Homo sapiens: one gene and its partner. The protein of the gene in region 2 purifies or fractionates together with the protein of the main gene of each other region. This does not show direct contact. Each region holds a gene or a part of one and is shown on either strand. Other genes may lie near its edges. The genes, in order: KIF2A and BUD23.

What was found.
Region 1: the proteins of BUD23 (region 2) and KIF2A fractionate together in Homo sapiens (co-fractionation; one large-scale study listed by BioGRID). This does not show direct contact.

What each region holds. Positions count from the first base shown.
Region 1 is NC_000005.10:62,308,937-62,312,754, reverse strand, and holds part of KIF2A (kinesin-like protein KIF2A), read right to left. Parts: intron 1-3,818. UniProt on the Homo sapiens protein: Plus end-directed microtubule-dependent motor required for normal brain development. May regulate microtubule dynamics during axonal growth. Required for normal progression through mitosis. Required for normal congress of chromosomes at the metaphase plate.
Region 2 is NC_000007.14:73,686,597-73,690,414, reverse strand, and holds part of BUD23 (18S rRNA (guanine-N(7))-methyltransferase), read right to left. Parts: intron 3,780-3,818; coding exon 3,684-3,779; intron 3,598-3,683; coding exon 3,515-3,597; intron 3,417-3,514; coding exon 3,320-3,416; intron 1-3,319.

The DNA of each region.
Region 1 (3,818 bases), on a different chromosome or scaffold from region 2:
ATATTACTCTTGGGAGATAGTTTAATATGGTGAAATTCTAATGTCTCTTTTCACTTAGCACTATAAAACCACTAATATTGCTTTATCTAAAAGAGCTGGAAGACAACTTAACCTGTATTTGTTCTACAACTGAACCAGAAGAATAAAAATTAGTTTTATCCAAGGTTTAAAACTTGTATCTATTCTTAAGAATCGTAATCTCAAAACAAACAAACAAATAAACAAACACCTTAAAATTATTTTAGGTTACAAAACAGATGTGTTAAAATTAAAGCAGATGGCTGAATCCAAGAATTAAACTTTGCAAAAGATTAATGTCATATTAATCACAACTATACTTCTGACTAGAAAGAACGGGGTCTAGATGATCTCTCAGGGAATCTTGTTCTGGATTTTCCACACTCTTGCCCCTTGTCTTATTTGAGCAGACACAGATTTAACTGGCTCTTTGCTGTTTTCTCTAGCATTTTAACAATCATGACACATAAAACAAGTTGACACATAGCCTTTCCCCAGAGTTTCAAAATCTTTGTCATAAGAATCAAGTGGCTAGGCAATGAATACAGATTCCTGGCTTTCTGTGGTACTTTTGGAAGCAATAAGTGCCTATTTTAAGTTTTTTGAGCTTCTTTGGTAGTAGTGGAAAGAATTTTACTACAGGGGTTTGTATGTCTCAGAAAGAAATACTAAAGTATACAACTTCACACCATAATCAGCAAACATCTGTCAGCAGCACTTAGAGAGCTGGGAGTGAAGGGATTCGGGCTTTGGCCCAGGCTATGCTCCTTATTAACCATGTGATCTTGGCAAATAATCCAACCTCAGATTCTTCACCTATAAACCAATAATCTGCCACCTTTCTATCCTGCTTACCTCATAGAGTTCCTGTGAAGATCCAATTAGCTAACATGTCTTGAAGCACTTGGAAAACTATTAAGCCCTAACAAATCCATATACAGAAACATTATCGTCCTAGTCCTCAGGGAAAAGGGAACTATTAGGTCACAAATGCCCCTATTCCATCCCACCCCCATAATCAATCACATAATTGTACCTAAAGAACAACTGTATTGCCACATGGTTCATCTTTATTACTTAAATTTACACATGCTATTCTCCAGAAGCCTATATAGTGACGTGTAAAGATGAACTAGCAGAAGAAAAATGTGGCAAAGCATATAAAGAATTAGGCCATTTAAAATCTTTTCTAAAGATTTTCTTTGCCTGCCCTGAACTCCAAAATTCCTGATGGGTCCTTTGAAATCTTCAATTGCCTCTTGATTTCAGATGTTAAAAGGAACTCTTTACACCAATACTTAACTAAGAAACAAGAATACTTTCCTCCCACAATTTTAGGTTTGGTGAACTTGTAGTAACATAGCACTTCTTACCAGGGATCATTCTAATCAAGCTCTGTAACACTGCTCGCTGGTGCCTTTCTCCGAAGTAAGAAGCAATTTCCTACATCTTGACTGGGCTGTAAAAAGCGGTATACGGTTCCAAAATAACAGAGAATTCCTCCTTTACTGTCATAGTTCTTGATAGTCTGATTTCTATGCTAAGCATGTCAGGTTCCTGGCTGCCATTGACAAGTTGTATGAATCTAGATAAGTCACTTATGGTGATCTGGGACTCAAGTTTCCACATTTATAAAAATGAAAACTAGTTTATCTCCAAAAACCTTTCTGGTGGAAATATTCTAAGATTCTCTTCAGATTACATGTATCAATACAGTCACAGTACTGTGACTAAGAGACCCGCCCCCAAAGAACAATCCCATATTAGCTGCAGCTTCCAAATGTTCAACATTTCCCATTTCTTCCCCAGTCCCCAAAGGGTAGTCACAGCTACTACAGAACTGTTAACAGCACAGCTAAAAGAAAAAAAAAACCAAACTAGCTACACGACAGAAAGATTGTAGGTTTTTTTAAGAGTCAGTGGGTTTTAAAAAGGGAAAGGAATTGAATCAGAAAAATAGGAAGACACATGTAAGAAAACACACCAGTCCAATTTCATACCAGGTTATCTCCTGTGGCAGAGAATAATCTTAGCAGTCCAAGCCTAACCCCTGTCACTGATAACCTTAGAAAACCAGAAAAGTCAGATTAACCTTAGCAGATCACTCAATTTCAATTAACGCTGTAGTTCCTGACTAACAGGCCAGCGGGAAGTAGAGGGCCAGAGTAGGGAGGTAGCAGTACAGAGGAGCACAGATGGAAGGTTTCACTTCCAGCTAAGATGTCATTCTAATGATTAATTAAAATGTTTGAAAACAAAAAATCCAATAATGTATGATTTATTCAAAAACGATGTGCAAGGAATTTTGCTAGACATCCCAGTAGTGGGGGTGGGAATGGGGGTAATGACACAGATGCATTCAGGGAATTTAAGAGTCATTAGAGGCTGGGCACAGTGGTTCACACCTGTAATCCCAGTACTTTGGGAGGCTGAGGTGGGTGGATCACTTGAGGCCAGGAGTTCGAGACCAGCCTGGCCAACGTGGCAAAAACCTGTCACTACTAAAAATACAAAAATTAGCCGGGCATGGTGGCACACACCTGTAGTCCCAGCTACTTGGGAGGCTGAGGCATAAGAATCGCTTGAACCTGGGAGGCAGAGGTTGTAGTGAGCGGAGATCGCACCACTGACAGAGCGAGACTCTGTCTCAAAAAAAAAAAAAAAAAGAATTATTAGTTATTAGTAAGTCCCATTACCCCATGCAGTTTAAAAACATAGTATTAAGAATATGTACCCATAGGTATGAGCTGAGAGGAGTGGAAAAAAAAAAGTTACAGACCCAAACATTAATACTTAAGGAAATATGCTGTCTCATGAATAATACAGAATGATTTAGGAATTCAGATGCTGACTGGCCATCTGGTTTTAGTAATCAGTGAAGACTCATTAGGATAGTTTTCATCATGGTCTTGAAAGATAGGAATAAGCTCATTTTAGTGTACCTGTTTGCCCTTGGGATATGTTTATTAGTGTAAGAGTATCACTGATGGGAAAAGTGTGGTCTGAAATAGGGACATGGATCGCCATCAGCAAGCCAAAAGAAAAACATCAAGTCACCAGTTAATAATGGTCTGAAGCAGCCCTTCTTTACTCATGTCATTTCTACTGTCTCAGATATTAGTGTTCCTCCAACTGCAAAGTTTATTTTTGTTATAATAACCACTAGTGTTTTATCCAATATAGACGTTATGGAAGTGAGAGGAAGCAAACAAGCTTCTTTAAAGTGAAAAAGGGAAAGCTTGAGGGGCATTCTCCCAGACATCAATTTCTATTGTGAAACACTACTGTCCAATGCAAATGATCCTTCTGTTCTTTCGAAGTTCTCTACTAATCTCCTGCCTTCCACCAACTCCATCATGCATCTGAGGCACATAAAAAGATACATGACCATAGGTTAGGATAATAACACACTGTGATGACTTCCCTAATTTCTTATAGGCAAACCGCTTTTGAAATGTGGCTTTAGGTTAGTAGCACTTATGTAAGAACACAAAGCTCTTGTATGTCTGGGAACTTCTGGTATAGGCTGAAGGTGAAGGCTGAAAAGAACGAAAATTGCTTCAAGTTCAATAAATTTAAATAAAATATGCTCCGTAGAAATTAAAATGTATAAATCAAATATCATATACTTTTTCTGATACGATTTCAAAGTTAACACCTATACTCATACTTATGAGTGTAAAGAATTTACACATTTTATTGCACCCTAATTTTTTAAAAAATAAATTTCATTGTGCAACTGAGGTTTACAACATGATGCTATGGAATATAGACAGCAAAATGGTGAAGCAGATTAATAT
Region 2 (3,818 bases):
TTTAGACTACTCACATACACACAGCCATCCCATCACCCTTCCTCCTAAATCACTCCCTTCCACTCTACCTGTTAAGTGTCTTTACAACCCCCAGATTTAAAACCTCAAGCAGCCAGGTGCATTGGCTCATACCCGTAATCCCAGCATTTTGGGAGGCTGAGATGGGTGGATCACTTGAGGTCAGGAGTTCGAGACCAGCCTGACCAACACGGTGAAACCCCGTCTCTACTAAAAATACAAAAATTAGCTGGGCTTGGTGGCATGTGCCTTGAATACCAGCTGCTCAGGTGGCTGAGGCAGAAGAATCACTTGAACCTGGGAGGCAGAGGTTGCAGTAAGCCTTGTGCCACTGTACTCCAGCCTGGACAACAGAGCAAGACTCCATCTCAAAAAATAAATAAATAAAACCTCAACCAGTCACTATGTCTTCCTTCCTGCCCTTCCCCTCCGCCCTGCTGTACACACACAGAGCCCTACCTCCACCCCACTGGCTTGTCCCACAGCCTCTCCCAACTTTCACTTCCCCGCACCAATGCTCAGTGCTACCAGCTCAAATGCTTCCACCTAACTCTCTCTCCTCTTTCACCAGAAAATCACCTTCCTTAAACACACATCTGATCCCGTCACCTGCCAACTCCCCATCATCTACTCCATCAAGCCCAAACTTCTTAGGACACACTTAAGTGCCTTCTAGGAAGCAACCACACTCAACCCCATCTTCCGTGGAATCTCTCGTTCATCCCTCTCATCTCAGACCCCTTTCCCACCGGCATCTGTGCCTCTGCCCACTGTTCCCTCACTCAGAAACCCTCTCCTTGACTATCCAAATTCCTCCCAGCCTTCAAGGTGCAGCCCCTCCACCCAAGGCTTTCCTGTGCTCTGGCAGCCCCATGACTCCCTAGGGCACACACCACTCATGCCCTTATATTCAGTTGCCTGGTCCATGTCCTAAAGCACCTAATAAACCGTGGAGAGTCTTACACGCAGAAACTGTTTCATTTCCCTGTACTCCACAGCACCTTGTACGCCTTACATGTAGCAAATGTTTAAAAAAAAAAAAAAAGTCTGGGCCGGGTGCGGTGGCTCACGCCTGTAATCCCAACACTTTGGAAGGTTGAGGCGGGCAGTTCATGAAGTCAGGAGTTCAAGACCAGCCTGGCCAACATGGTGAAACCCCATCTCTACTAAAATACAAAAATTAGCCAAGCATGGTGGTGAGCACCTGTAATCCCAGCTACTCAGGAGGCTAAGGCAGGAGAATCGCTTGAACCCAGGAGGCAGAGGTTGCAGTGAGCCGAGATCGTGCCACTGCACTCCAGTCTGGACAATACAGTAAGAATCCGTCTCCAAAAAAACAGTTTGCTATACCATCTCACCTCTCCCCGAAGACAAACAAAAACTGACCATCCCCTTCCGAAACATACAGACCATACTGCTGGCCTTCGGTTTTTCACAGCTTAAAACACCTCATCTGACCATTACCAAAAAGCATCTGCTACCCTTGAAATTATTCCCCAACCCCCCTGGGTCTTGTTCCCAGATGTAAAAGGAAAATCTTCTAATCTGAATTTTTACCTCTCACCTGGCTCCCCACTTCACATCCCCACCACTCAACTTAGGGTAACCAAAGGAAGTCTCCCCTGCAAGTAATGATTTGTAACTTCCTCCCCTATTTTCTCACTTTCACTCCCACACCACACCAAAAACTAAACAGAACTGATCACAGCAGCCTAAGAAAAACTTAATCAATTTTAACATTCTAAGATCTGTTATTGAAGTGCTATGTGGATGTTTAACCCGACTCTGATTACAGAGAAAGGACTGTGAAGCACTTAAGAGATTAGAGCAAGTCCAGACGCTCTCTACCAGTTATCTGTTGGCAAATAAAGTAAGATGGCTGCTGGGGCCCACAAGATGGCTGGGGCCCATAAAATGGCCGCTAGAGACTAAAAGACCACCTCCTCTGCCCCACCAGACACACAAAGCTGACACAGAATCTGTACCAGTGGTGCCCGAACCCGGCAATGCAAAATAATCGCAATAGTAGACAAGTTTTATTTTTGAGATGAAGTGTTGCTCTGTCACCCAGGCTGGAAGTGCAATGGCGTGGACTCGGCTCACTGCAACCTCCGCCTCTCGGGTTCAAGCAATTCTCCTACCTCAGCTTCCTGAGTAGCTAGCTGGGACTACAGGTGGCCACCACCATGTCTAGCTTTTTAGGCTGGGCGCGGTGGCTCACGCCTGTAATCCTAGCACTTTGGGAGGCTGAAGAGGGCGGATCATGAGGTCAGGAGATTGAGACCATCCTGGCTAACATGGTGAAACCCCGTCTCTACTAAAAATATAAAAAAATTAGCTGGGCGTGGTGGTGGGCGCCTGCAGTCCCAAGTACTTGGGAGGCTGAGGCAGGTGAATGGCTTGAACCCGGGAGGCGGAGCTTGCAGTGAGCCGAGATCCCGCCACTGCACTCCAGCCTGGGCAACAGAGAGAGCCTCCATCTCAAAAAAAAAAAAACAACAACCACGTCTGGCTTTTTAGTAGAGGCTGGGTTTCACCATGTTGGCCAGACTGCAAAGTTTTAGAATCCAAAAAAATACACTCTTGGGCCTTGCTCTAACCTTGTAAATCTGAAAATCCCATGGGATGTGTATTTGTAAATATCTGCATGAGTCTGCTGCACAGCCAGGTTTGGGAGGCACTGGCTTGCAGGACTAAAAGCAGGAAGAAAGAGGCCAGGGTGGCTCACACCTATAATCCCAGCATTTTGGGAGGCCCAGGTGTGTGGATCGCCTGAGCAACATAGCAAAAACCCATCTCTACAACAAATACAAAAAAAGTTAGGCTGTGCACGGTGGCTCACACCTGTAATCCCAGCACTTTGGGAGGCCGAGGAGGGTGGATCACAAGGTCAAGAGATTGAAACCATCCCGGCCAACATAGTGAAACCTCACCTCCACTAAAAATACAAAAATTAGTTGGGTGTGGTGGCGTGCTCCTGTAATCTCAGCTACTTGGGAGGCTGAGGCAGGAGAATCGCTTGAGCCTGGGAGGCGAAGGCTGCAGTGAGCCAAGATCACACCACTGCACTCCAGCCTGGTGACAGAGCAAGACTCCATCTCAAAAAAACAAAAAATTAGCTAGGTACGGTGGTGTGGGCCTGTAGTCCCAGCTACTCAGGAGACTGAGGTGGGCAGATCACCTGAACCCAGGAGGTGGAGGCTGCAGTGTGAGCCATAATCACAGACACTGCACTAGAGCCTAAGTGATAGAGTGAGACCCTGTCTCTAAATAAATAAAAGCAGGAATTAAAGACCCTCACCTGATGCAACCATCAAATGTGCCTGGCTTGAATGGGATGCCCTGGCCCATATCCCCCAGCAGCAGGTCTCCCTCTATCTCTCGGTCCACAGCCTCATCTACATTAGAGAAAAGGCAGTCAGAGAAAGAGAAATACCTGTGGCTTCTCCACACCCATCAGGGTAATCCACCCTGGTGCCAGACAGGACATACTTACCCAGCATGGCAGGGCTGATATCCAGGCCCACCCAATAGTGCCCTTCATCTGACAGATAACTTCCACTCAGCCCAGTGCCACAGCTGGAAGACATGACCAGACACTCAGGGTCAGTTTACAAAGACACTTCACCACCTTAGACAATCTGAACCAGGCCCCAGAATCTCACCCAATATCCAGCAGGTAACAGGGCTTATTCTCTGGCAGATAAAGAAGCTCCAATGCTCGCCCAGCCATCCTGGTCTGGATATCAATCATCCGTGAGCTGGTAAGGCAGAAACACAAGTGGACATGGTAAAGGAGT